Regions from separate parts of the Homo sapiens genome. Here region 1 is linked to region 2. The links come from fine-mapping of genetic effects on gene expression. A gene starts in region 2. The other region holds a variant in brackets. All regions are shown on one strand. Distances are between the middles of the regions.

Region 1 (16,125 bases), 55 kb after region 2:
GTCTGCCTTCACTGGCACCTCAGCATCTGCAGGGAGCATCCCGGTCCCAGGAAACATCATCCAGCCCAGAGGGCGGCAGGGTCGCCGTCGCCATGGATGCCAGCCTTTACCCAGCACTAAAAGTATTTTTGTTTTTGTTTGTCTTAAATGTTGATAACTTCATAATAACTATTTACGTTAGGGCTTTAAAATACCTTTCCAAAATCCTACAAAGTTTCTCTTTTGAGAGCCATTCTTCAGATCCCTGTACTAGCCTTCTTTCTTTAATTTTCTTTTAGATTTTTTTTTTTATTTTTTAAATTGTTACACTAGTGCAGATTGTTTCTCCCATTATAGGGTTTGCAGTCATGAAAAGTGTTGATAGGGATTATATCCATGAAAATATTTCTAGAACATTCATTCATTTTATATTAACAGCTTGCATTGGTGTGGTACATTTGTTACAATTGATGAACCAGTATTGGTACAGCATTATTAACAAATGTTTATAGTTTACACTTGGGTTCACTCTTGTGTTGTACATATTCACTATGTTAAAGAAAATTAAATGTCCATTCCTGACAAGTTTAATTTCATCCTCTCTCAGGCAGTTAAATTTTTCCAGACCCCCACCACCATCTTTTTAATCTGTTGTTTGGAATTACCCCTCTCGTTCCAAAGAAACATTCACAATGGCAGTGAGCATGTAAACTTTCATAGTGCTTTGAATTTTTAAAGTACCACATTCTGCATTAGATTGCTCACTTCAAGTTTCCATGCAACTAGAGGGAAAATAGGAGCCCAAAAGATCTTCCCGCTGGAAATAAAGCAGCTTGATTATCTTCACTATGCAGTTTAAGAAGTATAGTGCTGCTTCTAATACTAAATTCAGATCTGCATGTTTAGACTAAGTTACAAGAGCTGTAATGACGTCACAGGAAATGGTACTTCAGAACTTAATCCGTGCGGATTACCATCAGGTCAAATTAAAGTGGATGGGGCAAACACTTCCATTAATCGGATGCCGAATCTCTCTACTCTTCCATCAGCTGTCTGCTCCTCTATGTGCATAAAGGCACACTGTCACTGGATCTTTCTTCCTTTTTCATCCTCCCTCCAAAATCATGAAATTCACATTTTGAGTTCTCAAATTAAATTCTGAAACTTTTTTTTATCAACACATAACCATATGTGATATCTCAGAATTAAATATTCAGCATGTTTCCAGTGTCGGATTTTATTTTTCATGACAAAATTACCTCACCTTGCAGAGTGACCACGTTCTGCTTTAGATTTCCAGGTCACAATGCTTTGCATCAGAACTCCCGAGCGTTGATGGTTGGACATGTGATCGCTGCTTTATTTGTTCGGAGAAGGCTCGTTAGTTCATCTTACTGCTTTTCACTTTGCCCACCGTTTTTATGAAATCTGGCATTTTCAGTCTTTTCTTAGAACAAACTACTAAAAATAGGGGAATTTTCAGTTTGGGGTTCCGTATCTACCATGAGAACACCCAAATGGAGACCTCTCCTTATCCTGTCTGCACAAGATACAGGCCTTGGCCAGTCACTGGGCTGTAGCTGAAGCCACACGTGGATTGCACATGACTGTGGCAGACGCGTACAGAGGCAGTGACCCAAGCCTCAGTTTGTCTTCATGCTTCAGGGCTTTAGTTAAGCAAATCATTTAAATAAGAAATATTTAAGGTATTTTTTTCTCTTAGGACTTTCTCACTGTTTTTGTGTTTGGTTTGTTTTGTTTTGTTTTTAATTTACAATGCCACATTAAAGTCAAAAATGACTTGTTGAGAGCTGTAAGTGTGACACTGTGTGCTTGGCCGGGCACAGACACCAAGCAGTATCCCCAGCGTTGAGCACAGGCAAACCAAAGGCATGGCTTATCCTGCCTGCTGAGGTCAGGATAGGGAAGGACACACCCAGACAGGCAGAGACAGTGGGAAATAAATACAAAGCAGTCTTCCCAGCAAAGCACTCGCGTAACTTGAAAATGAGACGGAAATGCCAGGGCAAACTTGTAAGTTTGTGCCTTACTGAAGAAAGCTGTTAAAATTGGGCAAAGGGTCTGGAAGGCTCCCGCAGACCCTTCTGTGAGGCAGGTGGCACAGGCGTCCAGGCATCATGTCACACCTGCTGCGGCCTCACGGCAACCTAGCTGCCTCTGGGCCCTCCCGCCCTAGTTTGCAGTGACACAGAAGGCTGCAGAGAGGATGTGAGCCACCCAGCACAAACAGCTAGTGAGTGGCGGAAGGTAGCATACCCCACTGAAGGGAAGCTGAAATGTCATCTTTGTTCCCTTTCATTTTTCACTGCCCAGCACCAAGGCCCGGGCAATTCCTGGCACATTTCTCTTTTCTATAGTGGCAGCACGGATTTTCAGCACAACAAGGGACGGTCTGAAATAAATTTTGTAGGAGTATTTTCATTTAATGTTTTCTAAATGATGAATGAGAACACTTCTACAGTATTTATACCAACCTAGATTTTGGCAGGTCACAACTATACATGGGAATCTTCCGGAAAAATAGATCCACTAGGAATTGTTTTTCCTTACAGATTTTGACTAGCTTCTCCTTTTTTTTTCCTTTCCAATGCTCTTTCTCCCTGCAGGAGAGAGACGGGCCTCAGGGCTGGTGTGGAAGCCTTGCATATTTTATCTCGCTTGACAACCACCCTCAGCATGGAGGATTTCAGTGAGATTCCCAGGGTAGCTCTTCAGAGACAGGGGCTAGGTTTGGCCACTGAGAGAATCAGCTTAAAGGTATTTTTATGTGCATTTACTTAAGAACAAAAGTATGAATTACACCAAAGCAGCTTCTGTATGCATCTTGTTGAAGAGGGGAGTAGTTTCCTTGAGGACACGGACCTCGTGGCTGTCATTGTGTGCACCCAGTGCAGGCCCTCCTGCGCAGCGCTAGGAGCTGCTGAGTAAATGTCAGCTCAGTGAAATTCACACACCTTACCTGGAGCTCACAGATGGTTTCTCCAGCTGCTTCCATTTATTGTTTTAATTCTGTGATCTATATATTTTTTCTAGGAAGGGGTGTTTTTCTTTCTGATTTAATTCCCTACATTTTTCTCTTTCATATGAAGTTGCAGATAATGTTTTTCCTTCGGATTTTTATTCTTTAAGATTTTTAACCTGTGCAAGACTTTTTCAATGATACAAGTCAAGGAGGATGAAGATCTTTTTCCACTTCAGTCTTCACTTTGCTCCAGCTATTGCTAAGAAAGGCACAAACAATGACAGCATATTTAAGGAAGAACCTGGCCGGCTTGGGTCACCGCTGCTGTCTTTCTTGGTTTTGCGTCTACCTGGGAGAGCCCAGCTTTTAGGTTCCCATTGAGGGAAGCATGAGAGAGGATTGTTTGGGGGATGCTGCCAGAGCTTCCAGCTGACAGTCTCTGCAGAGCGGCTGCCAAGTGGCCTGGTGGCCGTATGTTGGCAGTTTTTGATGAATTGGGATTAGGGAATGTTTGTTTACTTGATAACCGAGTGTCTACAAGGAGAGGTGGCAGCGTGAGGGAATAGTGCCACCATAATGAGGACACAGCCAGCCATCTCTTCCCTGCCACAGAACCCCAGGCAGTCCCCTTCAGGCTACAGTTTTCCATCTGGACCGAGGGACTGGCCGGTGCAGCAGGAGGAGCCGATCACCCTCTGTGGCAACGAGGATGCCCAGAAGTTCCAGTTACTGTGGTTTGTATGTTCTTCTTTTTGAGATGGAGTCTCGCTCCGTCGCCCAGGCTAGAGTGCAGTGGTGCGATCTCGGCTCACTGCAATGTCCACCTCCCACATTCAAGCAGTTCTCCTGCCTCAGCCTCCCGAGTAGCTGAGATTATAGGCGCATGCCACCACGCCCAGCTAATATTTGTATTTTTAGTAGAGACGGGGTTTTCGCCATGTTGGCCAGGCTGGTCTCTAACTTCCAGCCTCAAGTGATCTGCCCGCCTCAGCCTCCCAAAGTGCTGGGATTACAGGCGTGAGCCACCGCGCCCAGCTGAGTTACTGTTAACTGTTACTGGGGGGGCAGGGGAATGGCTCATTAACATTTTTTTAAATAACATTAACATTTTTAAAATGTTAAAATTTAATTCTGAAAGAATTTTGCTACATTAGCGCTAGTTTTAATTGTGATTTTATTCAATATGTCCCCCAAATGTAAGGAAGAAATTGGTACATTTTGTTCACAAAAATATCCTCCCCACCTCCCAAAAGCAGTAGAAATGGGAGTGCCATAGCACGGGGGAGATTTGAAAAGAGCCCGGAAGTTGGGTTTGTTGGAGGAGGAGGATCTGAGCACAGCTCAGCTCCACCTGCTCCAGCAGCGCAGAGTCCACGAGTACAAGCAGGTGTTTGGTCCCCAAGGCCTCACAGAAGTTCAGGCAGAATTTCATCACTTTCTTTTCCCTTAACCCCCATTTAGGTTTTAAACGCCTGTGTGGTTTTTAAAAGGGTAGAAGTAGCAAGGAAACAATATATATCTAATGAGGGACATTTTCCTGTGTGATATGTAATGAATGCACTATATGTAGTACTAATTACCTGTTATAATGAAGGCACTGTATAGTACCGATTACCTGTTTTAATTTGATCCTAAGGAAGGTCAATGTGCATTTTGAGGCATTATAAAAATATAGTTGATATTACCTGATAACCTTTGAGTTAGCGAATTTTAATTTCACATCAGTAAGGTACTGTTTTAGAGCAGTGCTTCTCCATCTCAGCATGCACAGGAGTCACCCAGCCTCTTGTGGAGGGCAGGCCCTGATGCAGCAGGTCTGGGCAGGGCCTGAGACTCTGAAGTTCTAACAAGGGCACAGGTGATAAGACTGCAGCTGGTCAGAATGTACCTTTAATCAAGTATTAATATTACTCTTTCAGCTACAGCTGGCCACTATATTTAATAGTATTTCTGAGAAAAAAAATACATATTTTAAGTCTCAATTTGAGATCCCAAGAACACAGTCCTTCACCCCAAAGAAATGGATCTGATTTTATCTTTTTTCATGTGGCAATCCCCATATCTGAACCATGCTCATTAAAAACTCCATTTTCCATCTAATACCTTGGAGACACCATCTTTATTGTATACTAAAGAATATATGTATTCCCTTTTTGTAATTTACAGAAAAATCGAGTAGAGAGTTCTATATACCCTCTTTTCTTCTGCACAGTTTTTAATAACATCTTGCATTTTTATTATTAATAAGTATAAAAATTTTGCATTAGCGTAGAACTTTTATTATAATTGATAAACCAATAGCGGTACATTGTTGTTAAAGTACATAGTTTACCTTAGGGCTCACTCTTGGTGTTGTCCCTTCTGTGGGTTTCAACAAATTAATGGCGTTGCGTGTTCATTGTACTGTCATGCCGAATAGTTTCACTGCCCTGTGTATTAATCCCCCCACCACCCCTGGATTAATACCCCCATCACCCCTGGATTAATCTCCCCACTACCCCTGGATTAATACCCCATCACCCCTGAATTAATCCCCCCATCACCCCAGGATTAATACCCCATCACCCCAGGATTAATACCCCATCACCCCTGGATTAATCTCCCCACCACCCCTGGATTAATCTCCCCACCACCCCTGGATTAATCCCCCCACCACCCCTGGATTAATCCCCCAATCACCCCTGGATTAATCCCCCAATCACCCCTGGATTAATCCCCCCATCAGCCCTGGATTAATACCCCATCACCCCAGGATTAATACCCCATCACCCCTGAATTAATCCCCCCACCACCCCTGGATTAATCCCCCAATCACCCCTGGATTAATCCCCCCATCAGCCCTGGATTAATACCCCATCACCCCAGGATTAATACCCCATCACCCCTGAATTAATCCCCCCACCACCCCTGGATTAATCCCCCAATCACCCCTGGATTAATCCCCCCATCACCCCTGGATTAATGCCCCATCACCCCTGGATTAATCCCCCAATCACCCCTGGATTAATCCCCCCATCACCCCTGGATTAATACCCCATCACCCCTGAATTAATCCCCCCACCACCCCTGGATTAATCCCCCAATCACCCCTGGATTAATCCCCCCATCACCCCTGGATTAATACCCCATCACCCCTGAATTAATCCCCCCACCACCCCTGGATTAATCCCCCAATCACCCCTGGATTAATCCCCCCATCACCCCTGGATTAATACCCCATCACCCCTGGATTAATACCCCATCACCCCTGGATTAATCCCCCCACCACCCCTGGATTAATCCCCCAATCACCCCTGGATTAATCCCCCCATCACCCCAGGATTAATACCCCATCACCCCAGGATTAATCCCCCAATCACCCCTGGATTAATCCCCCCATCACCCCTGGATTAATACCCCATCACCCCTGGATTAATCCCCCCATCACCCCTGGATTAATCCCCCAATCACCCCTGGATTAATCCCCCCATCACCCCTGGATTAATACCCCATCACCCCTGGATTAATCCCCCAATCACCCCTGGATTAATCCCCCCATCACCCCTGGATTAATACCCCATCACCCCTGGATTAATCCCCCCATCACCCCTGGATTAATCCCCCATCACCCCTGGATTAATACCCCATCACCCCTGGATTAATCCCCCCACCACCCCTGGATTAATCCCCCAATCACCCCTGGATTAATCCCCCCATCACCCCAGGATTAATACCCCATCACCCCAGGATTAATACCCCATCACCCCTGGATTAATCCCCCCATCACCCCTGGATTAATCCCCCAATCACCCCTGGATTAATCCCCCCATCACCCCAGGATTAATACCCCATCACCCCAGGATTAATACCCCATCACCCCTGGATTAATCCCCCCACCACCCCTGGATTAATCCCCCAATCACCCCTGGATTAATCCCCACCACCCCTGGATTCATCCCCCACCACCCCTGGATTCATCCCCCCATCAGCCCTGGATTAGTACTTCCACCCCTGGATAAATCCCCCCACCATCCCTGGATTAACCCCCATCACCCCTGGATTAGCCCCCATCACCCCTGGGTTAGCCCCCATCACCCCTGGATTAATACTTCCACCCCTGGATTGATCCCCCATCACCCCTGGATTAATCCCCCATCACGCCTGGATTAATACACCCACTACCTCTGGATTAACCCCCATCACCCCTGGATTAATACCCCCACCAGCCCTGGATTAATCCCCCGCCACCCCTGGATCAATCCCCCCAATCCCCCTGGGTTAATCCCCACCACCCGTGGATTGATCCCCCCTCACCCCTGGATTAATCCCCCCATCCCCCTGGGTTAATCCCCCATCACCCCTGGGAGCTTGGAGTCTTTCCATTGTCTCCATAGTTTCCCCTTTTCCAAAGGTCTTATAGTTGGAATCATACAGTATGTGGTCCTCAGATTGGCTTCGTTCACTTAGGAATGTGCATTTAGGGTTCCGCTGTCTTTTTCTGCTTGATAGTACGTTTCTTATCTCTGAATAATATTCCATTTTATGTATATACCATAGCTTATTTATCCATTTCTCTGTTGAAGAACATCTTGGTTGCTTCTGGTTTTTGACAATTATGAATAAAGCTACTATAAACATTCTTTTTCAGGGTTTTGTGTAGATACAAGTTTTATCACCTTTATCAGTTCCAATCCTTGGGTAAATCTCTAGGACTGTGATTGCTGGATCTTATGGTAAAAGTATTCTTAGCCTTGTAAATATCTGCCAAGCATCTTCCAAAACTTTCATACTATTTTGCTTTCCTAAGAGCAATCAATGAGAGTTCCTATTGATTCACATCCTCAGCCAGCTTTTGGTATTGTCATTTTTTGGATTTTTCGCTATTCTGATAGGTGTGTAGTGTTACCTCATTGTTTTAATTTGCAGTTCCCTAATGACATATGATGATGAGCATCTTTTTATATGCTTGTTATTGATAAATCTTTATTGGTGATATGTCTGTTCAGATCTGTTGCCCATTTATTAATTGGGTTGTTTTCTCATTGTCTGTTTTTTGGAGACAGAGTCTCACTTTGTCACCCAGGCTGGAGTCCAGTGGTGCAGTTATGGCCCACTGCAGCCTCAAGCCCCTGGGCTTAAGCAGCCTTCCCACCTCAACCAATGGAGTAGCTAGGACTGTAGGCACACCTGGCTAGTTTTTGTATTTTTTGTAGAAACAAAAAAAAGCGATCAGCTCGCCTCAGCCTCCC[C/A]GCGTGCTGGGATCCCAGGCATCAGCCACCATACCTGGCCTGTTGTTGATTTTTAAGAATTCTTCATATATGTTGAATACAAGTTCTTTATCAGATAGGTGTTTTACAGCTATTTTCTTCCTATCTGTGACTTGTCTCTTCATTACTTTAATACTACGTTGGACAGAGCATACGTGTTTAATTTTAATGAAGTCCAACTTACTGATTTTTTTCTTTCATGGATGGTGTTTTTGGTGTTGTATCTAAAAGATTATCAGCAAACCCAGGTCACTCAGATTTTCATCTGTGTTCTGTTCTAGAAGTTGTATAGTTTTTGCACTTTACATGTAGTCTGTTATTGGAGTTCATTTTGGGGTAAGATGTAAGATCTGTGTCTAGATTCATTTTTTTTTTTTCATGTGGACGTCCAGTTGTCCCAGCACCATTTTTGGAAAAACCTGTCCTTTCTCCATTGAATTACCTTTATTCCTTTGTCAGAGATCAAACTGACTATATTTGTGAGGACCAATTTCTTGTCTTTCTGCTCTGGGCCACTGATCTATTTGTCCGTTCTTTTTCTAGGACCACACAGTCACCCAGTCTTTTTTACAGTAGCTTTAGAGTAGCTCTGTAAGGTGGGTAGTGTCAGCCTGCCAGATTTGCTCTCTTTGATATTGTGTTGGATGTTCTGGGTGTTTTCCTTCTCCATATTAACTTCAGAATCATTTTGTTGATAACCACAAAATAATTTGCTGAGATTTTGATTGGGGCTGCATCGAATCTGTAGGTCAAGTTGTAAAGAACTGATATTTTAGCAGTATTGTCTTCCTGTCCATGAATGTGGAATATCTCTTGATTTCTTCAGCTCTGTGAATTTTTTCATCAGAGTTTTATAGTTTTCTTCCTATAGCTCTTGTGCATATTTTGTCCATTTTATACGTGGGTATTTCACTTATTTATGTAGAAATGATAGTGTGTTTTTAATTTCAAATTCCCATCATTTATTGCTAGTATCTAGGAAGCCAGTTGACTTTTGCATATTGATCTTGTATCCTGTGACTTTTAATCACTTCCTAGTTTAGAAGTGTTTTTGTTCTTTGAGATTGTTCTTTATAATTATGTCATTGCAAACAAGTAGTTTTATTTCCTTCTTCCCAGTCTGTGTACCTTTGGTTTTCTTGTCATTGCATTAGCTCGAACTTCCAGTACAATGTTCAGTAGAAGAGATAAGAGGGAACATTGTTGCTTTATTCATGATCTTAGGGGGAAGTCACTGAGTTTCTCACTCTTAAGTTTGTTGTTAGCTGCAGTTGTTTTGTAGATGTCCTTTATTAAGTTGAGGAAGTTTCCCTCTATTCCTAGTTGGCTGAGAGTTTTTATCACGAGCTGGTGCTGGATTTTGTTAAATGCTTTTCTACATCTATTGATATGATTTTTGTTCTTTAGCCTGTTTGATGTGGTAGATTATGTTAATTGATTTTGGAATGTTAGATCACCCCTGCATACCTGGAATAAATTCTGTCTGGTCATGGTTCATAATTCTTTTTATACATTGTTGGATTTGGTTGCTAATTTTTTGTTGACTTCAGTTTTCTTAGATTTAGTTTGCTAATTTTGTTGAAGATTTTTGCATTTATGTTCATGAGACATATTGGTCTACAGTTTTTTTTTCTTGTAACGTCTTTGTCTGGTTTTGGTATTAGGGTAATGCCAGACTCATATAAGAAGTTAGAAAGCGTTCCTCTGCTTCTGTTTTCTGAAAGAGATTGTAGAGAACTGGTAGCATTTCTTCCATAAATGTTAGGTGGAATTCACAGTGAGACCATCTGGGTCTGGGGCTTGCTTTTTGGAAAGGTTTTTCTTTTTCTATCCAAGTTACCAAATGTATGGACATAGAGCTGTTCATAATATTCCTTTACTATTCTTTTACTGTTCATAGGATCCATAGTAATAGTCCTTCACTTCTAGTACTAGTTGTTTATGTCTTCTCTGTTTTTTGACTAGCCTGGGGAGAGACTTATTGGTCTTGTCAGAGTTTTATTGGTCTTGTCAAAGAATATGTTTTTGGTTTGGTTGATTTTGTCTATTGATTTCCTGTTTTCAGTTTCACTGATTTCTGCTCTAATTTTTATTATTATATTTTTATTATTTTCTTATTATAATACAATAATATTTTTATTATTTTCTTATAATAAAATATTTTATTTTCTTATAATAAAATAATATTTTTATTATTTTCTTCTCTACTGCTTACTTTAGGCTTATATTGCTCTTTCTTTCCTTCTAGTTTTCAAAGGTGAAGCTGGTTTCAGATCTTTCTTTTCCAATATATGCATTTAATGCTAAAAAGCTTCCTCTCAGCACTGCTTTTGCTGCATCCCACAAATTTTGATAAGTTGTATTTTTATTTTCACTTAGTTCAAAATATTTTCACATGTGCTTTTACATCCAGAAGCACCCCCATGTCCATGGGCAGTTGTCAGGATAAGGGGCAGCTAACTTTCTGCCACCTTCTCAGGTGAAGTGGCAGGAGTCACACAGCCTGTTTTCTCACCATCCACCAAACTGTATTCCAGATCGGAGTATTAACAGCTAGTCTATAAATTGAGATCGGAGTATTAACAGCTAGTCTGTACGTTGAGATCGGAGTATTAACAGCTAGTCTGTACGTTGAGATCGGAGTATTAACAGCTAGTCTGTAAACTGAGATCGGAGTATTAACAGCTAGTCCCAAGTTGGGTTTGAGAACTTCCAGTAGAGGTTTGTTTCTGTGCTTATCTTATAGAGCTTGAAGGGTTCTTGAGATATTCTCTCCCTTGTGGTAAGTGATAAACCACACAGGAGTGATTCTGGCCCCTTCTCTACTTGAGACAGAAGGATGGAAGTGACGTGGCTTACATATAACTTACCATGTTGGGCCGGTTCCACAGTGACATGACTTACATATGACTTAATTGTAGGCCAGTCCCCTGTGTCATTATGCGGATGGTCTAGAAATGTTTATTTCTAGAAAACCGAAGTGACTCAGGCTGTAACTTAAGCTCGGCCAGATATTCTCTTGAGATACAGAAATTATTTAGTGGCATCAAAAAAGAAAGTTTAAACATTTTAAGTTCAATAATTGTTACCTTTCTTTTCTCCAGGCTTATAATCACAATAGAACTGTTTTCCATAGTGTTCCTTAATTTTGACTGTCTTCTTTTTGGACCTTTGTTATTAAAGACCATAAACATAAAGCTCATTTCAGTGTGGTCACGGCCCATTCTCAGTAATGGTTAATGAATAGACAGATGGATGCATTGAGGCACAGATACATTAAGTGGCTTGCAGAAGTCATACGCGTGTTTTCTCACCATCTTTCAGACTATATTCCAGATCCGAATATTCATCGCTTAGGCCTATTTTGAAAAGCACTTTACTGAATCTATGTGATTGCCCTCTGGCATTTCTCTATTCTTTATCTCATTTATAATCAGTGCACGCTATTTGATTTTTTGATGATTGTTATCTACTTAGTATACATACTACAGATCAAATTCCAAATCCTATTAGAAGAGAACACAATATTAACAAAAAGTTGACCTTACCCTGAGAGATGATGCAGCCACAGGTGATACGATATAAAGGGGGTTTCTCCTGAGCTTCTTCCTCTTCTTAGCGCACGCAAAGCCAGGCAGCTCTGGGTGATGGATTTTTCAAGTCCAGCTCCCTTGCCTCCTGTCAGAGGTGGAACGCAGGCTCCAGGGCCACATGGAATCCAGTGGGAGGCCCATCCCCAGGGCCGAGGCCTGAGACGCACCTGTGCTCAGTTTCGCCTCCTCCCCACTGGTTTTCCCGGGAGCACTTCCGGAACCACTGGCTGGCTTACGGCTTCTCCCTTCAGGGTCTCCTTCTGGGGAACCCAAGCTAAGCAACCTACCATTCGAGCTTGCTAAACTAAAGAAATATTAAAGAATATCTGAGCATTCTGGTTTTTCTTTTATTGGAGGAGGGGTTGGCGGTCTCTACTGTTTCATTCATTTTGGGATCATTTCTAAATGATTGCAGTGTAGCTTTGGAAATTGTGGTGTCATCCACCTGTCTCCTCTGATAATTGTCGAGACATACATACATAGAGCTCCATAGAGAAAACCAGCATGTATTTTATAGTTGACACCGTTAAATACTTCACAAGAAATAAAGGGATCTGTCATCACTTCTGCTGGGACATCTGCGACGCCTCCTTCAAGTGTGCCAAGTATGAATGCGTGCTCAGTTATGGCAAACAAACTCACTCAGCACTGATTGGATTCCAGGCTCCATGGTCCCCTTCTCGATGCGCATCTTGCACGCGGAGCTTCAGCAGTACCTGGGGAACCCACAGGAGTCGCTGGATAGACTGCACAAGGTGAAGACTGTCTGCAGCAAGGTAGGTGGCGCTGTCATTCTTCCCTGCCACGGGGAGAACATGCCCTCCACGCCCTCCCCACAGGACATGCCCGTGCTGTTCCCTGCCCGTCCTGCCCCATGCACCATCGCTGCTTCTGCCTTCAGAAGGCTAGGTGACCCGGTTTGTGTGGCCTGGTAGTCGTGTCTCTTGCTGAAATCTTTTTTAGGGATGGTAAGAGTTTCTAGCAGAGCTTGAGTCCTGTAATTCTTACTGCCTGGTACTATGGGAAGCTGAAAGGCAGAGACATCTTTCTTGCCAAGGCTGCCAGCTGAAGCTTCAAGGTCAGTGTGCCAGACCACCCCTGTGTCCCACAAGTGCCCACACGCACCTGCCACGTGCAGACAGAGGTACCGGAGCAGTACTGAAAGCAATCATGGTTTAAGCTTTCAAATCCAAGTAAGTGCTTCTGCATTATGGCAACTGTCACTCATGATCCTGACTGCAAAGGCAGAGTCGGAGTGTTTTCGGACTCATTCTTGGTTGTGAAGTCACAGTTAATGTGGGAGCCACCAAAGTGGCACGTTATTACACTAACTGACATTGGGAAGAAATGTGGGACTCAGAGACTTTGCTGTCTACAGGTTGTTATAGAGTATTCATCTCAGATTAGGAATGATCCTGCCTTTCTACCCACGTCACAGTGTTCCTGTATAGGTTCAGTGACATAAGGTATGCGGAAGTACTTTGAAAACTACAACAACAAGCAGTTATTAGGAGCAGCAGCATATTATAATTTTTGGGAAAACTAAGATTCTTCTTGTCAGATTCCTCCTTTCACTTCCTAACTGTTGTGGTAGAAGTTTTGCGGAGTTCCAAGATGATGGTGTTAACAGTGTTCCTAGTAAGGAAGGAAGGGGCCCTCTTTATCCTTATCTGTGGAGAAAAAACAGGCGTTTCTAGGCCCCTTGTTGTCCTGGGCTTTGTACCCACTTCCATTTTTTTATTACCATAACTTAAAAGATAAAAAGAAAAATTGTTTGCTTTCTGTACTATATCAGTTGATGGAGAATCATGTTACCAACTTTTTTACATTTCAACACTTTTCTTGAATCTTAAAACGGGGTTTAATTTTATTTACAGAAATCGGAAGCACATAACTTGAAATTGAGAAGTTCTAAATCAGTGACTTTCTAAACTATACGAATTTTTCATTATCCTCCATGTCACATTGTAGGAAATCTTTATAGTATTTGAGAGAGAAAATTCTGGGCCATAGGGTGATTTGTGGATGGAAAAGCCAAGTTAGTTGAAGTAGTTTTGCAAGTCAGCTTTCCTGGTCCTGTTATGTCCTATTTCAGAATTATGCTCCTTAAATGCATACTACAGGCTGGGTACAGGGGCTCATGCCTGTAATCCCAGCTACTTGGGAGGCTGAGGCATGAGAATCGCTTGAACCCAGGAGGCTGAGGTTGCAGTAAGCCGAGATCAAGCCACTGCACTCCAGTCTGGGCAACAGAGCAAGACTCTGTCTCAAAAAAAAAGAAAAACTGCATACTACAGTGTAACGATGAGAGGAGCCACTTAGCACTAGCTATGAAGCAGCAGGGACGGTGGAGCAGAGAGCAGGAGCTTCCCACACCGCTGCTCTGGGCACCTGCACTTACTCCACCTGACAGACACCTTTGTTGCATTCATTATGAGGCAGCCACTGCTCTGAGTTCCAATATTAACTCATTTAATCCTTATCACAACCCTATGAAGGAGATGTTATTATCCCAATTTACAGATGGGGAAACTGAGGCACAGATAGGTTAGGTAACTTAGGATCACATGAGTTGAACCCAAGTCATCTGGCTCTAAAGTCCATGCTCTTCATCACTTGCCTGGCTTCATCACTATAACATGTCCCGTTTGAAGACAGAAGGACCGAGAGTCCTCTCTTCCACCCTGCACCAGCATTTCTGCTCCAAGAAAGGACAGTGCTGTCCGGGGTCAACTGACATCTGCTCAGAAGACCCCTGTGCTGAATGGGGCCCTGCCCCTTCCCCCTGACTGATGCCTGGAGATGGGCTCGAGCCTGTGCTCTGCTGGGCTGGGCCCTCCTGAGACTCTTGAGGGGGCTTCCAAGCAACAGCAGTTGACAGCTAAGCATCGTAGGGTTGGGGAGAAACGAGAAGGGTTAGTGCAGTCACATCCTAGGAACGTTTCTCTCAGGCTGACTGGGCGTGGGGCCACCGTCAGTGAGAGAGCCACTCATGCTTCTCGTTCCCTCCGCTGGTCTACAGTTCCACCTGCCTCTCATCTTGTGAATACATAACCGCACTTCAGGTATCTCTCATGTTTAAAGATACATATCTTTTCCATGGCATGATCCAAATCTAAGCCAACACTCCTTATGGTACTTAAATGAGGAAATCGCAATTCGTTCTAATCCTGGAAGAAAAACAAGCAGTTGGATTTATGAAAAGGTGTGTGTTGGTCTTCACCTTAAAGGATTTTCACCGTTAATTTCAATATGTAATTACTATGTGTTCCTTTATGTGCTGACTTAAAATTTGACACCCTCTTGAGAGAGAGAGCTGCACTGTGGCACAGCTGGTGGATGCCTGGACCAAGAGGGAAAGACCCAGGGCATGACCATATAGTCAGCCTTGCCTGTCCGCCACCTTTGGCAGGAGAAGAAGCACCGTCGCCAACTTCCTCGCTCACTTCCTTGCACGTTAGGGGCTCATGGCCGCATGTGGGCATTCTTGACCTTTCTGCGGCTGGTTCAGTGTTGAACTGAAGCAGTTTTTATCTGGATGTGAACAGTGGGCACTGCGGGGACATGGAGCAATGCGTCTCCACGCTGTCCAGAACAGCTCTATCTGAGCTTGTTCATTTGTTCATGCAGCAAATGCCCTTTCAGCACCTACTGAGTACTGCACACTGGCAGTTCGGGACTCAACAGAACGCAGCCTCGCCCTCAGTGAGTTTACAGTTTGGTAGACGATGCTTGTTTCACCTGTTCCTTTTAGGTTTGCAGCCATCACCAATACATCATGATCCTCCAGAATTTAAAAAGGGACAGTTTGTGTTCATGCTAGAATTTCTTTACTCAAGAAGTGTGTATTAGTCCATCTGGCTTTGCCATAAAGGAATACCCGAGGGTGAGTCATTTATAAAGAAAAGGTTTATTTTGGCTCACAGTCCTGCAGGCTGTACAAGAAGCACAGTGTCAGCATCTGCTTCCAGTGAGGCCTCAGGAAGCTTTTTTTTTTTTTCTTGAAGCGGAGTCTCGTTCTGTCACCCAGGCTGGAGTGCAGTGGCGCTATTGGCTCACTGCAACCTCCACCTCCCAGGTTCAAGCGATTCTCCTGCCTTGCCTCCTGAGTAGCTAGGATTACAGGCGCCCATCACCACACCTGGCTAATTTTTCTATTTTTAGTAGAGACAGGGCTTCACCATGGTGGCCAGGCTAGCCTCAAACTCCTGACCTCAAATGATCCACCCGCCTTGGCCTCCCACAGTACTGGGATTACAGGCATGAGCCACTGCGCCTGGCCAGGAAGCTTTTAATCATAGTAGAAAGCAAAGGGGAAGCAAGT
Region 2 (16,023 bases):
GGAGGCTGAGGCAGGCAGATCACAAGGTCAGGAGTTCAAAACCAGCCAGGCCAAGATGGTGAAACCCCGTATCTACTAAAAATACAAAAATTAGTCGGGCGTGGTGGCGGGTGCCTGTAATCCCAGCTACTTGGGAGGTTGAGGCAGGAGAATCACTTAAACCCGGGAGGCGGAGGTTGCAGTGAGCCGAGGTCACGCCACTGCACTCTAGCCTGGGCAACGGAGCAAGACTCCATCTCAAAAAAAAAAAAAAAAAGCAGACATCATTTATATCTTTAACACATACTGCTGCACAAAATTATGTATCAAGTATTTCATATGGCAGTGAACTGTGTTTCTATCTCTCTATCTGTCCCTCAGTGCTTTAGGCATAACACATTCTCAAAAGCTACTTGAATAGATGAAAACCAGGACAGGGCTCTAACAGGCCCTACACAATCCTCATCTTCCTCCCCCGCTCATCTCATCCCCTACCTCATTCCCCCTGACGCATTTACTCTATCCACGGCAGCTTTCTTGCTGTCCTGAACTACCATGTGCATTGCTTATGCTCTGGGGGCTCATTCGGTTCATAGTCATTTGTTGAACACCTACTATGTGACAGTCATGAAAAGGCACTGGAAAATACAAGGTAAAAAACTAGTGTGAAAACAGTTGAATCCGAAGACAGTCTGTGGTTTACTGAATATTAGTGTACCAATGTTAATTTCTAAGCTGTGATAAATGTACGATGGTTATGTAAAGTGTTAACATTAAGGGAAGCTGGGTGGAGGGTAAAGAAGAACTTTCTATGTATTTTTACAACTCTTCTAAATACTTTAAATTGTTTCAAAATCAAACATTTTTATTTTAAACAACATACAGTTCCTACCTTCAGGAACTCAAATTCTAGAGGAAAAGGTGGGCGTGTAAATAAATGAGTCCACCAAAGTGAGTGATAACTTCCAGGTCAGAAGTCATGTTCGGGACAGGATGTGAAGGGGAAGGAGGCAGGCCGGCTGTGGCCAACCCTGTTATCCAGTACAACCGTTTAACCTCCTAAAGCCTCAGTTTACTTCTCTGCAAAATGGGAACTAGGGAACAGACACGGGTCCTTGCAGGGCTGGTGGGAGATCTGCAAACCGAAGTCACCATGGGACCGCGCATGCTATCAACAGCCAGGCCGAGCAGCACCTGCCGCCCTCCCAGTGACCCACCTGGAACTCCAGCCCGTAGATCACTGGTGCATCGTCCTCCATGCTGCGGGGAAGCGACCCGACCCCGGCCACTCACACGCTAAGGACCTCGCTACGGCCGGCGCGTCCCCACCTCGCGGGCGTGTTCCCAGCGCCCATTCATTCCCTCCCCGCAGCAAACGACTCCAAACTGGAAGTCTTTCTGGCCCAGAACAGCTTCCGTAGTGGCCACTTCCTATTTTTCGGATGTGTCATCAATCTGTTCCTCACCAGCGACCAATGGCAGCGGCGCTGGCTTGTGCGCATGGCCACTTGGGCTCACATCCGGGCTCTCAGCGCGGGGACTCCTGGAGGTGAGAACCCGGCCCAGAGGAAATAAGTTGGTGGGCGGAGCGGGCCGCGGAGGCCGGCTGTGGGTGGAGGCCGGCTCCGAGCGCAGGCCGTCGGGAGCAAGCGGCGATTAGCCTTAGCTAGCCATCGCATCTAAGAATCGCTCACGCCGTAGTTGGGCGCCGCCATGTATTGTCATTTGTATGTACTTGGCGTTCCTGAGCGCTGGGCCAGCGCTTCACACGCACTGCCATAAGGAGCTTCATCCAACCCTATGAATAAGCTGTTACACTTCCATTTTACCGATGAGACGCTGCAAAGTTGAGTAACACAGTCGCAGCGCTCATTGGTCCATTGGGTAGCCAGGATGGGCACCTGAGCTGACTCCCTTAGGTTCGGCCCAAGGTGCCCTAAGTCAGGGCCATGCCTAATGCATTTCTGCAGGTGCCCAGCACTGTGTGGCAAAGAAAGCACTACCAAGGATGGGGTTATGAAAGCCGGCACCGCACCACTGGTGGTCCTGGACTGCATATGCCTCCGAATGGGAGTCGGAAGGGAAGGCCCTGGGGTTCCTAGAGGTCTCCAAAGACTAAAGACTTGTGGTGGAGAGACTGCCCCTCTTTCGCATCCTGCTCAAAGTGCCTGCCCTGGCCTTGGGCCAGCAGAAATGGCATCGCAAGGACTCCAAAATACATCATAGCTGAACCACGCCGCTAGCCTGGTTCCACCGGGGCTTCCAGGACCACGCACCTTTCCTCCATTTCTGTGATTAGCTTTCCCCTCTACCCTTTATTGATCTCCGTGACGGAAATGGTTGGGTCTCGTTTTGCTCAGTTGGGCAAGGCGCGTGGTATTGAGTTAAGGCTGGATGAGTATCTGTTGAGTGTATGAAATTTTAGAGATTACATGAGAAATCAAATGAGCAGGCCGGGCGCGGTGGCTCACGCTTGTAACCCCAGCATTTTGGGAGGCTGAGGAGGGTGGATCACAAGGTCAGTTCGAGACCTGCCTGGCCAACACAGTGAAACCCCGTCTCTACTAAAAATACGAAACTTAGCCCAGCGTGGTGGCACGCGCCTGTAATCCCAGCTACTCGGGAGGCTGAGGCAGGAGAATCGCTTGAACCCGGGAGGCGGAGGTTGCAGTGAACCGAGATCGCGCCACTGCACTCCAGCCTGGGCGACAGAGCCAGAGTCGGTCAAAAAAAAAGAAAAGAAAAGAAAGAAATCAAGTAAGCAAAAACAAGAAAGAAAGAAATCAAGTAAGCAATGGCCCAGACATGAGAATCATCCTATTCAACCACTCTGTTTGCCGATATTAACTTGCGGAGCTAAGAGGGCCTTCATACTTCGGGATTAAACCCACCCATCTATCACTGATATCTTTATCATTAATTTTATTATACAAGTACTGCAGGTGCATGGTAAGAAACTTACAAAATACAGATAAACACAAAGACAAATCCATAGAAACACTGATTTCTAGGATATGCTGGTCAATAAAAATAGCCTAAGCGACTCCCTTTCACCCGCCCCATCTGCCACAGGCTTGCCTATTGCCTCTGAGTGACAGAATCAGGCTAGGTGGAGTGGAGTCTCCGTTCCCATTTCCAAGTACAGGGTCCGCTCCCCTCAACTACCGGCTCCTGGTTGCCTGTGCGCGTTCACACCTAGGGCTCCAGGCCCCGCCCACAGCAGACGAACCGGAAACGAACCCCATTTCCGGCCTGGGGGCAGGGCCTCGGGTTCCTGCATCGGGCCTGAGCAGAACTAGGCGCGCCGCGGCCCGGCACGCGCAGGCGTACAGAGCTCCCCGGGGGTGCCAGTTCCTCTCCGATTCCCGGCTTCTGTCACCTTCCTCACGGACCTTGGTCACGGCCGCAGGTGACCCCTTAGCCCAGCTCCAGTGGGCGGGTGGCAGGTGAGGATCAGGGCCTCGGCAGTCCAGAGGGGATGGGACCGTGTAGCGCCACCTCGGGGAGGGAGCACACTGGCTTTGGCCTCAGCCCGGAGGGACCTTCTCTGGGACCGATGCTAGAGTGGGCGTGGGGTCCGGGCGCGGGGTCGCCTGCCACCCAAGGGCGTGTGTGCTCCGCGGGCCTTGTGCCAGGCTCCACGTCGCCGCGGCCCTTGCTCTCCACGTCTGCAGAGGGCTGGAAGCGTCTCTGCAGCCCGCGGAGTTTGCGGGAAGGGGAAGCTGCTGCGAAGCGTGTGGGAAACTACCCGCTGGCGCGCGCCCAGGCGTCCCCGAGACCCCCAGTTCCAGGCTTGGTGCCAGCCAGGCCCCCAGCAAGCCCCTTAACTTCCCTTAGACTTAATTCACCCTCCCGCGGAAAGAGGTTACTAATGACCTGCCCTGCCAAACTCAGCATTGTGAGGCTGCAATGCAGTGTAAAAGCATTTGAGTCACTGTGTAAACGTCCGCTGTTGCTACACATACTAATTGTAGAGTATATTTACTGTGAAGACCGAAAAAGCGTTTATTCAACAGAAAGCGTTAGGGTCAAAGATGTGTTTTAACGTGTCATTTTTTCACTCTTCACTACGAAACAGTGTAGCCCCAAGGAAAAATTTTCTTGGACCTACGGTTTGTACTTTTTAATGGCTACTTGAAGATATGGTGTCTTTGGATTCAGTCACTGTTCGCAAATTCAGAAGATAGTGGCGGATAATGAGCCAGTCCCGTCTTGGGATTGGGGTGGGAGAGGGACAGGGGAAAAGCAAATGAAATATTACACAGTGTTACTCATTCAGTTCTTACATTTTGTGATATCTGATGGGATCTTCTTCACAGTTACTAAACTGGGTGTTGCCACTCTGCTTTATCATTAAAATGATAATTACTATGCTTGTGTCTGTGCAGCTCTTCACACTTTAAAAGATGCCTATGCAGGGGTGCCACTATTTAATCCTCTTTATTCTGATGTACCATCTAAAAGATCAAGATTTTCAGAGGTTACTTCACTTGGTCGGGAAGCTAAGACTCAACACAGTTATTGAGACACTGCCTTCAGAGCTCTTTCTGCCCACCCCTGCCTGGCAACCTTGCAAGAGGAGCTGAGAGGTGACCAGCACAAAGAAAAGAGTATTGGCAGAAAGCGCTGTGTGGGTAGCCTGTCACCATCAGGTACTGTCAGTGTGATGTTAGGCAAATCACTTGGCCTTCTCTGCTGTATGATGGAGGTAATAATAATGCTTCAAAAGTTTAGGATGAGTATTAAATAATAAGGTAAAATGCTTGATCTGTAGTGAGTGTTCATTACATGGAGACTTCTGTTAATACGTGCCACCTAGATTTCCACTACACACCCTCGTGCCCTTATGGAAGGAAATTTTACATGACTGCAATTTGGTAAAAGATATGTTTACAGAGTGTCTGTGTCCAGGAAATGAACCTGAGAAACCAAGTTTTAAATGTTGTTAGGAACTTTTTATTTCTCAAATACAGAATTACTTAAATTTAATATTTAAAAAAATTTTAAACAATTAATTAATCACATTCTTGTGCAAAGCCCTCAACTGGACAAGGAGAAAGTCAGATTTCTTTGCTGCACTGTGATGTAAAGCTTCTGTAAGCTTATGTAAGCTTAAAATCCTATTTATAGTTTAATAAAAATAAAGCCAATGATAGGAGGGAGTAAAGATTTCTATCACGTACAAATCAAGAACAGATACTTGTGTTTTTCCATTTTTAATTATGAACTATAAAGACTACCCGTAACACACATGTGAGATTTAAAGATCAAGTCAACCCAGTCTTCCATTACCAGCATAAGATGGGGACCATTTCCCAGTGCGTTGAAACTTCCGTGTGTCCCTCCCCAGTCAAGCTCTCCTGCCATCACCTTCCACCCCTCCCTCACTAAAGTGGCTGTTACTATATCCTGGCTTTTCTTTGTAGTTTGACCAAATATGTTTGTGTTCCTAACACAGAAAAAGTGTTTGGATTCAACACTTTTGTTTAATTTACATGTTTTTGAATATACAGAGTCATGCTGTTTATTTTTCTACTCATTCTTTGTGCAAAATTGTATTTGTGAGATCCAAACATAATTTATATGTTAGATATGGAAGAGTTCACTGATTTTCACCACTATTTTAATATTTTATGTCCTAGTATACCACAGTCTACTTATTTACTTATTATTGTGTCTACAGGCAGTGTTTATTTCCACTTTTTTTTTTTTTTTTTTTTTTTGAGATGGAGTCTTATTCTGCCGCCAGGCTGGAGTGCAGTGGCACGATCTTGGCTCACTGCAACCTCCGCCTCCTGGGTTCAAGTGATTCTGCTGCCTCAGCCTCCCAAGTAGCTGAGACTACAGGCGCCCGCCACCATGCCTGGCTAATTTTTTGTATTTTAATAGAGACAGCATTTCACTATGTTAGCCGGTATGGTCTTGATCTCCTGACCTCGTGGTCCGCCTGCCTCGGCCTCCCAAAGTGCTAGGATTACAGATGTGAGCCACCACGCCCAGCCTACTTTTTCTTTTAGGACTTTAGAAGAAAGGTATTTTGATGTGTTATTTATGAAATTCAGCATCATAGCTTACACTGCTCATGTACAGGAATTCCTCCATGATAGGTATCTAGCAGTGGAATTGCTAGGTCCTAGGTACTACGACCACATATTTATTGTCTCAACCAAGACTCCTTTAAGAGTGAAAGGAGACACTTAATGATTTTACTGAGGCGAAGCACGTGGCTCACGCCTGTAATCTCAGCACTTTGGGAGGCCAAGGCAGGAGGATCACTTGAGCTCAGAAGTTTGAGACCAGCCTGGCCAACATATTGAGTCCCCATCTCTACAAAAAATACAAAAATAGCTGAGTGTGGTGGTGCACACCTGTAGTCCCAGCTACTCCAGAGGCTGAGGCAGGAGGATGGGCTTGAGCCCAGAAGATCGAGGCTGCAGTAAGCCATCATCGTCCCATTGCACTCCCGCCAGGGTGACAGAGCCAGACTATGTCTCATAAAATAATAATACTAATAAAATAATAGAAATAACTTAAACCATGGGTGAAAAATTGAATTGTTCTGGGAAAAATCAAGATGTATAGTTATCAAAGTGATAAGATAATGTGCTTTTTAAACTTTACTAGATAATACCAAGTGGTTTCTCAACATGGATGTTCAAAGGTATACCTCTTTCAGCTCTGTTGCTTATTTTTCTAATGGATCATTTAGTGTGCTTTTATTAATTTGTAGGGATTCTTTATGTATTCTTCGTGTTAATCCTTTCTCAGTTACATTTGTTTGTTTCACTTTTTTTAGGTTTTTAATGATAGAACTTTCCATTTTAATATAGCAGATGTATCCATTTTCCCTTTATGGTTTGTACTGATTATGCCTAGTTTAAGAGGCTTTGCCTACTCTGAAAATATATTCTCTTATATTTTCTTCTGAAAGTTTTGAAGTTTTGCCTTTCACAGTTAATTTTTGATCCCCCACCCCCGCCCCGCCCGAGACGGAGTCTTTCTCTGTCACCCAGGCTGGAATGTCGTGCCTCAATCTTGGCTCACTACAACCTCTGCCTCCTGGGTTCAAGCGATTCTCCTGCCTCAGCCTCCCGAGTAGCAGAGTAGCTGGGATTACAGGTGCCCGCCACCACACCTGGCTAATTTTTGTATTTTTAGTAGAGACGGGGTTTTACCATGTCGGCCAGGCTCATCTTGAACTCCTGACCTCGTGATACGCCCGCCCCGGCCTCCGAAAGTGCTGGGATTACAGGCGTGAGCCACCGCACCCGGCCTTCACAGTTAAGTTTTTAACGTCCCTGAGATTGATACTGTGTCTGTGGTGAGACAAGATTCCAAGTTTATTTTTTCCCAGCTGCATGATTTGTCTACACATCACTCAAGGAAAATCGTCTCTTCCTTTGATGTGTGCTACATATTCCCTTGTGATAGTTCAGTCTTGTTTTTTTTTTTTTTTTTTTTTTTTTTTTTTTTTTTTTTTTTGAGATGAAGTTTCGCTGCTGTTGCCCAGGCTGGAGCACAGTGGTGCGATCTCGGCTCACTGCAACCTCCGCCTCCTGGGTTCAAGTGATTTTCCTGCCTCAGTATCCCAAGTAGCTGGGATTACAGGCGCCCTCCACCACACCTGGCTAATTTTTGTATATTTAGTAGAGACAGTGTTTCACCATGTTGACCAGGCTGGTCTTGAACTTCTGACCTCAGGTGATCCACCCTCCTCGGCCTCCCAAATTGCTAGGATTACAGGCCTGAACCACCGTGCCTGGCCCAATATTTCAGTCTTTATACCATAGATTTTTGATGTATTCTACATAAATAATCATACACGAAGAATGAAGGTTTGTATTTTTTTCTTTTCAGTTTTTATTGTAGCTTTTAGTTATTTTTCTTGCCTTAATCCTGCCCGAGGACTCCAGTATTAGGCAGCATAAAAATGTTGAAGAGGACATCTTTATCTTTTTTCTACTTTTAAAGAGAATGCTTTAAACGTTTCACTGTTAATTTGAGGTTTCCTTTAGGTTTTTGGTAGATACCTTTGATTGCATTAAGGAAGTTACTTTCTGTTGCTAGTTTGCTGACAGGTTTTATCTTGAGCAGATGCTGAATTTTATTAGATACTTTCTTGTGCATCTATTGAGATAGTCATGTACTTTTATTTAATCTATCGCATTAAACCAACAGTACATTTCTGGGATTACCTGAGTTTGGTAGAAAATAAATACATTGCTGATTCAGTTAGCTAATATTTCAAGATTTTTGCATGTGTGTTCATGAGTGAGATGATAGCTTCCCTTTTAGTATGGCCTTGTCAAATTTTGGTCTCAAGGTTATATTAGCCTTATAAAGTGAATTGGGTCATGTGTCTTTTTTCTTCTCTGCAAGAATTTTTGTACTGTAGGAATTATCTGTACGGAATCTTTGGTAGAATTCACTGGTAAACCCTCTGGACCCTATATTTTCTTTGTAGGAAGACTTAACTACTGGTTATACTTTTTTTATGGTTATAGAACTATCTCGTCATATATACATGGTTATTACTAGTGTCTGCTTTGCATTTGAACCTTACATTGGAATAAGATTAGAGTAAGGAAACCCTTGAAGTGAAGAAGCTATTTTGCTACAAATTATATGTCCATTCTCACAAAATCTTATGTATATAATTTATATAGATGTAGCTTTATAATATATGTATGTCTTCCCATTCATAAAAGCATCATCTAAATCACGTTTTATATCATTTTTATTTGAGCATTCCTCTTGATTTTCTAGAGAAGAAACCCTCAGATCCTTACTTACAAGCATTTTCCTGCATCTAGATTTTATTTGTGTGAAAGCAAAAGTGATCATCCTTGCCCTAAATTATTAGGGCTTTTTATTACTTTGGTATTTACTTAAGAATAAAATTTATTTTTTTATTTTCTTCTCTTCTCAAAAGTGGTTTGCAGGTATTAATGAAAATTTTGGACATTCCCATTTTATCAGTTCTCCTTAATTTACAATTTATAAAGTTTTTAAGCTTTATAATTTAGAAGCATTTTACCTTAATTTTTATTATTTTGGTGGTTTTTCTAGGCGATGTTTTTTGTTATTATATCTCTGATAAACAGATTTCCCTAAATCTTACAGGTTTAAAGCAGCTTCATCTTCACAATAGTAAGAATTGTTTCTTTAAAAAGTTTCTTCACAAAGGCAATAAAACTTTTAAAATCTGTGAGATTGAATCAGAATTAGCTTTAGAACCTAGAATTTTGTTAGGGCTGAGGGTAGATGAGACGGAGGGAAGATCCCTTTCTCTCATCATTAGCTTATATCGAAATCAATTCTTATTTCTAAAATAAAATACGCAGACCACGCTAGTGCCTTCAAGTCCTGCTGGGAGACTTCAGAGGGGGCACTGCCTCATGCTGCCTGTTTGCTCCTTGTGCCCGGCCTCTATCCCTGCACAGGAAGGACCCGAAGGAGCAGCCTTACCATGCACAGGGGGCTCCCCCTTTGGGGTTCTAGGGCAATTTGTTCTTCGGGCTCCCGGTGAAACATGGCAGGAAAAAAAACGTTTTACTCCTTTTCATTGGATTTTTTATTCATTTATACTTAACAATTATTGGATGAATGTATAAGGGAATTAGTAGCTGACCAGGCTGAACCGGAAACTTCTTCAAAATGTATAACTTGGATTATGTACTTTAAAATAATGTTTTGGGAAGGCTGACTCATTGGGAATACTATGATGGAAGTGTTGACAGTGAGAAAAGGGTAGTCTTATCTAGAGATCAGCTAAGTGTCATTTTTTAAGTAAAAAAGGTACGTGTTGTTTTATTCTGAAAAAAATCCCTTATCTTTTATCATAGTCTCTTAGATTTCCTTAACTTGAATTTGTTCACTATGAGAGTAAAACTACATAAAGTAAAAGTTTTTCAAGAAAAAGAACAAATACTTTTTTACAGTTTGAGCTCTTTGTCTCATTCTTTGGCTGGTCCTGGTTTCCCCACTCACTAGCGGTGTGATTTCGGCTTACATAGCCTCCCAAGGCCTCAGTGTCCTCATCTGCGAAACGAAGACAGTGATAGCAGCTGTCTCGAGGGGTGTTCTGAGAATCACACAGGCATATGTATATATAGCCAGGGGCATAGTATGTGCGGATAAATGTTAGCTAGTTGTGTTGTCAGCTTCAGCCATCAGTGCTTAGTGAGTGTGCTGTTTTCTTACTGTTTAAATTTTTCATGTCATTCGCACTGTATCAGATTTCCAGAGTCAGGCAGATAATATGAGCTGGGGCGTGGGGCGGGGGTAGGGGCGGACGGCATGGGGAAGTCAAGAGACTATTACAAATTGAAGAGTCTTGGGAGGGCTTCATGGAAGAGGAGGGACTTAGCTGACTCTCAGAATGAAGTAGTGTTTATATGGCTGGAACCTCACACCTACTGGAATGGCTACTATGAAATAAAAACAAAATAACAAGTGTTGGCAAGGATGTGAATTCCAAGGCTTGTGCACTGTTGGTGGGAATGACAAACGGTTCAGCCACTATGAAAAACAGTTTTTTGGTGCCTCAAAAAAATTAAAAATAGAATTACCATATAATCCAGCAGTTCCTTCTAGGTATTTACCCAAAATGATTGAAAGCAGGGTCTCAAAGAGCTGTTTGTACAGCCACGTTCATTGCAGCAGCATCCACAATAGCTAAAAGATGGGAGCAACCCACGTGTTCAACAACAGATAGCTGGATAAACAAAATGTAGTGTATGCATACCATGGAATATTTTTCATCCATAAAAAGGAAGGAAACTCTGACCAAGCTGTAGCATAAATAGCCCTTGAGGACTTTATACTGAGTAAAATCAGCCAGTCACAGGAAGACAGTTATCGGGTGATTCCACTTATTTTATAGTAGAATGGTGGATGCTCTAGGCGGGGGAGATGGGTATACGGGGGAATGTTTAATGGGGATGGAATTTTAGTTTTGCAAGATAAAAAGTGTTCTGGAGATTGGTTGCACAGAAATGTAGATGTACTTAACACTACTGAACTTAAGGTGGTCAATTTTATGTGTATTTTACCATAATCAAAAGCACATGGATAAGAAGCTGGAGAAATGGAAGTCTGCGTCATTTGAATCTATAAGCAATACTCATTTTTCGGTTGAGGTGAATGAAGATCACGCTCAGGGGCCTTCTCTCTGTCTTTGCTTTCAGGGTCATGGAGGACGCTGGCGGCGGCGAGGAGACCCCGGCCCCGGAGGCCCCGCACCCCCCTCAGCTCGCGCCTCCGGAGGAGCAGGGGTTGCTCTTCCAGGAGGAAACCATCGATCTTGGCGGAGATGAGTTTGGATCCGAAGAGAACGAGACCGCATCGGAAGGCTCGAGTCCTCTCGCGGACAAGCTGAACGAACACATGATGGAGAGCGTCCTCATCTCTGACTCCCCCAACAGCGAGGGCGACGCGGGCGACCTGGGCCGAGTGCGGGACGAAGCTGAGCCCGGAGGGGAAGGCGACCCAGGCCCGGAGCCCGCGGGCACCCCGAGTCCCAGCGGCGAGGCCGACGGCGACTGTGCCCCCGAGGACGCGGCACCCAGTAGCGGAGGGGCCCCGAGGCAGGACGCGGCCCGCGAGGTCCCAGGCAGCGAAGCCGCGCGCCCGGAGCAGGAGCCTCCCGTTGCGGAGCCGGTCCCGGTGTGCACCATCTTCAGCCAGCGCGCGCCCCCAGCCTCCGGGGACGGCTTCGAGCCGCAGATGGTGAAGTCGCCCAGCTTCGGTGGCGCCAGCGAGGCCTCGGCCAGGACACCGCCCCAGGTCGTGCAGCCCAGCCCCAGCCTCAGCACGTTCTTCGGAGACACGGCCGCCAGCCACTCCTTGGCCTCGGACTTCTTCGACTCCTTTACTACCTCCGCCTTCATTTCCGTCAGCAATCCCGGCGCGGGCTCCCCGGCCCCCGCCAGCCCGCCTCCCCTCGCTGTGCCCGGGACCGAGGGGCGCCCCGAACCCGTGGCCATGCGAGGGCCCCAGGCAGCTGCGCCCCCGGCGTCGCCAGAGCCTTTCGCGCACATCCAGGCAGTGTTTGCAGGGAGTGACGACCCCTTTGCCACCGCCCTGAGCATGAGCGAGATGGACCGGAGGAACGACGCCTGGCTTCCCGGCGAGGCTACGCGTGGAGTCCTGCGGGCCGTGGCCACCCAGCAGCGCGGCGCCGTGTTCGTGGACAAGGAGAACCTCACCATGCCGGGCCTCAGGTTCGACAACATCCAGGTGAGCCCGGGTCTCCCACCTCCGCAGCCCGTGCCTCCTCTCTGCGTCTGTGAGATACGCACAGTGCCCCTTTAGGGATGGAGAAGGAGAAGGCCTTGTTTTCAGTAATTCCTAACATCCCATTGTGAGCGCCTGTGTTCCTCTGTCCCTGGGTAATTAGGGATCTGTTGGTTTCCCCAACAGAACATATTTAATGGACTGCTACTCAGAGAGGTAGAAATAAATACCACCAAGGCAGACAGTTCTACCGTAATTCTCTCAGTCAGTTCTCCATGTCCTGTAATCCATTTGACATTTGAACTCCAGTTAATAATAAATCCATTTCTTTCTTTAAAATATGGAAAAATATATTCCTGTAACATATAATGTGCCCGATGTAGAATTTTTATAGGTTGAATAAGAAAAATACGCGTGACCCAAAAAGTAACAAATCACAGAAATATATAAATGTTAAGCTAAATGGTAACATACAAATGTTCGATCTCACTACTAATGAAAGACAATTGATGCAGGGTTTTTTTCGGTGCCGCTTTGCCAGCTGGAGACCTCCGTGGTCGGCGATGCCCCTGCCCAGGCCTCTCTCGGCCCAGGTTCGCCCACTAGGCCTGCCGGGCCGCACCTGGCTTGCGCTTTGGCATATCCCGTGGCCTCGGTGACTGTGCTCTCAGCCCCCAGCAGGTGGGTTGTGCGAGCAACTGAGTGTAGGGGTCCGGGGGCTGCTCCAACCGCCAGCATAGGAGCAGGCTTCACACGGGGCTTGTAGCTGGACCAGGCGTGTGGCAAGTGACTCCCACAGTGGACTCCTGCGTCCAGGCGAGGGGAACACCGTGGCGCCCGAAGAGCAACAACCGCGACCCCGAAGCCCGAGAGGGGATGTTACAGCGTGCACACAGCTCTTTTCGACCCGCATCTGCTGCCGGACTAACGGGCATCTTAACGGCTCTAAACGGGCGCATTAACAGACCACTGCTTCCCGTTGAGTGGGGCAGCCGAAGGGGGTGGGGGATGGAGGGTTACAGTGTTATTGCTGTCTTGGTACCTGCACTCCGCGGAGTCCTGAGTTCTTGTCCTGCCTCCAAGAAGAACGAGATTATGCCGACAACCAGAGTGTGAGGAGGGCGGACGAGTTTTATTGAGCACAAAACAGCTCTCAGCAGAGAGGGGAGGCGAGGGTGGTCCCCCACCGAAAGTCAGGTGGTGTCTCTCCCAGTGTGGCTGGCTCAGGGGCTTTTTTGGGCTCAGAATGGAGGGGTGCATGCTGATTGTGAGTATGCAAAAAAGAAGGCTAAAACAAAGTCACCACTCAAAGGTGGGCACGACAGTGGAAAAAACCAGTTGGGGAAGGGTAGGTATATGTAAAATAGGTGAAGAGGGGTAATCAATCAGAGGAAAGTGCTCCACATGGGACGAAAGGTTCTCAGTCCCTTACGTGGGTTTATCCGGGACTTGCAGCTAGGCTTTAAACTGTCTTCAGTTCCAGTCAGGTTTCACCGGGGACCGCCCCTGTCTGCCTAGGATTTGTCTGCCTCCTGCTGCCATCACACTCGAGTCATTTCCGTTTCCATTTATCAATCATGATCTACTGTTTGTTGAAGTGTGGGAAAATAGCCTCTCTAAGGCAGCCCAGATGGGACCAAAATCAGTACAAACATATTTAAGTAAATTTTAAAATGCGTATCAAATGTGCATATTCTTTGACCCAGAAATTCCACTCTTAGGAATGTATTGTGAGGACATAATCATACTTCTATACATATACCAGCTGTTGAGATGTCTATCAGGGTGGTTTGTAATTGCAAAGAATCTGAAATAATCTAAAAGCCCGTTATTAGGAGGCTTGAATACATTTGACTCACCTCATCTTTGCAATGGAATATTTATGTAAGTTTTTAAAATGATGCCAGGGGTTAGGGGGAGGAAGGGATGAACAGGTGGAACATAGAGGATTTTAAGGCAATGAAACTATTCCGTGTGATACTTTAATGCTGGGTACATGTTGTTATTTATTTTACCAAACCCATGGAAAGTGCTACACCAAGAGTCTACCCTAATGTAAGCTGTAGACTTTGGGTGACAATGATGTGTCCATGTAGATTCATCAGTTGTAATAGGTGGACCACTCTGGCGAGGTGCGTTGATCATGGGGAAGACTGTGTGTGTAGGGGGACAGGCAATATATGGAAGATCTCTATACCCGCTTAATTTCGCAGCAAACCTAAAAGTCCTCTAAGTAATAAAATCTTCCTCTGATCATTGGTGAATAATAATATAAATAAATTGTAAAATCTATTTTTAAAAAGATATAAAACAGAATATTTAATGAGGTTCATCTCATACTGTTAAATTTGAAAATCAGGACAGAAGATAGCATGTAGCATGCATAGTATGATAAAATTTTTATAAATATATGTATACATATGTATCAGATTAAATCATATGCATGTCAGTTTTAGTTTATTGCAACCAAATTGTGGGACAGGATTAGTAGTTTCCATATGGCACTGTACATGACGGGGCGCCCCACCTCCCAGTTACTGGCCTCAGATCCTGTGCGTGTCTGTCTTCCTGAAACTGAAAGAAGGACCTACAGCCCCCTTTAGTGCAACCACTTACCCACTCCTGAACCCACTTACCCACTCCACTCTCACTCCTGAACACAAATAGGTAAGCCAATAAGCCAATCGTATGACTGTGACTATTGCTATTGAATTGATAGATGGCTGAGACCTAGGAGTGGTGAATTCTCCAGGAAAAGAAAAGTGACATACTAGAGAAATGAAGCCAATTAATTTTTTCAGATAACTGAAGTGTAAGCCTATAGACATCCGTATTTTGGGTGTTTTACGGGCAGTCTTTCCAGAATGTTCATTGACTAATTTACTAATATTCATTTACTATACTTATTGTGTGTTTACTCTTGACCAGGCATTGGTCTAGGCATTCTTCTCTACCCTCTTAGGCAGAATATACTGAGCATAATTTAACCTTTGCAGGATCTTTTTAATGAATACCAATTCCGGACTCTGATGTCAGGGGTATTTGGATGTGTGGGATTGGATTTATTTGTCACTGAATTCTTACCTGTACTCCCACTCCCTGGTCTTGTCTCTGTATCCTGTCCCCCCAAGATGGCTTTCATGTTCTGCTCCATGTTTCTTCCCTTCTCTCTCGGGGTCTTTGTCCTCTCTGCTGTAAAATTCCTTTAACATCTGTGGGTCTGGCCTTTAGCACTTTCTTTCAAACCCTCTGTTGCTTGCCTTGCCGTTTGCTTCTCCCTCTGACTGTAACTCAGAGGAAATCTGAAGGTTGCCACAGGAAAGACTTAACCTATTGCTTCCCAACTGGGTGCTGCAGTCCAACGGTCTTAGGTACATTTGGAAAGGGGGAGAGGTGTTTCACTTTGGTTGACAAAAGGGCTGGGGTGAGCATATGACATTTAGTGAGTAGGGCTAAGAGTACTCAGTACCTTGCAGCGAGCTCAAAGCTTTCAAGGAATGGAAAACACCTGTTCCTCAAAAAAGCTTAAAGGTCTCTGGTCCTGTCCAGTTTCTCCTTTTATGATGAGGAAACAGATCCGAATGACTTGTGTGTTCACCAGCAAGCCTGCCATGTCCCAGGCATCCTCTCTCCTGACACAAAGGAAGGTGTAATGCCTACCCGCCAGCCCAGACCAGGACAGACGGCCTAGACAAGGGAAGGCAGACCTGCAAATGGATAATTTCAGTGTCCTGTGGCTCAGTAGAGATCCAGGCAGAGTCCCATGGGCGTGTTTACCCTAGATAATGCAGCCACAACACTGCAGAG

The links. PIP is the estimated chance that this variant, and not a neighbour inherited with it, causes the effect.
Region 1: its variant is fine-mapped to the expression of TRAPPC12 in whole blood (TOPMed, PIP above 0.99).

What each region holds. Positions count from the first base shown.
Region 1 is chr2:3,431,315-3,447,439 of GRCh38, forward strand. It overlaps TRAPPC12 (trafficking protein particle complex subunit 12), which reads left to right. Exons shown (of 12, transcript NM_016030.6): 6 at 12,465-12,577. Among named protein-coding and RNA genes, the nearest start is that of TRAPPC12-AS1, 44 kb to the right of the region's middle. RefSeq lists a silencer at 2,222-2,472. The variant C/A (reference allele first, on the strand shown) is at 8,191.
Region 2 is chr2:3,376,452-3,392,474 of GRCh38, forward strand. TRAPPC12 (trafficking protein particle complex subunit 12) reads left to right here and starts at 3,243. Exons shown (of 12, transcript NM_016030.6): 1 at 3,243-3,425; 2 at 11,169-12,219. The coding sequence starts at 11,173. It overlaps EIPR1 (EARP complex and GARP complex interacting protein 1), which reads right to left and starts at 1,367. Exons shown (of 9, transcript NM_003310.5): 1 at 1,197-1,367. The coding sequence starts at 1,238. RefSeq lists enhancers at 871-1,150, 1,171-1,350, 1,371-1,420, 1,692-2,208, 2,209-2,725 and silencers at 1,591-1,650, 3,214-3,263.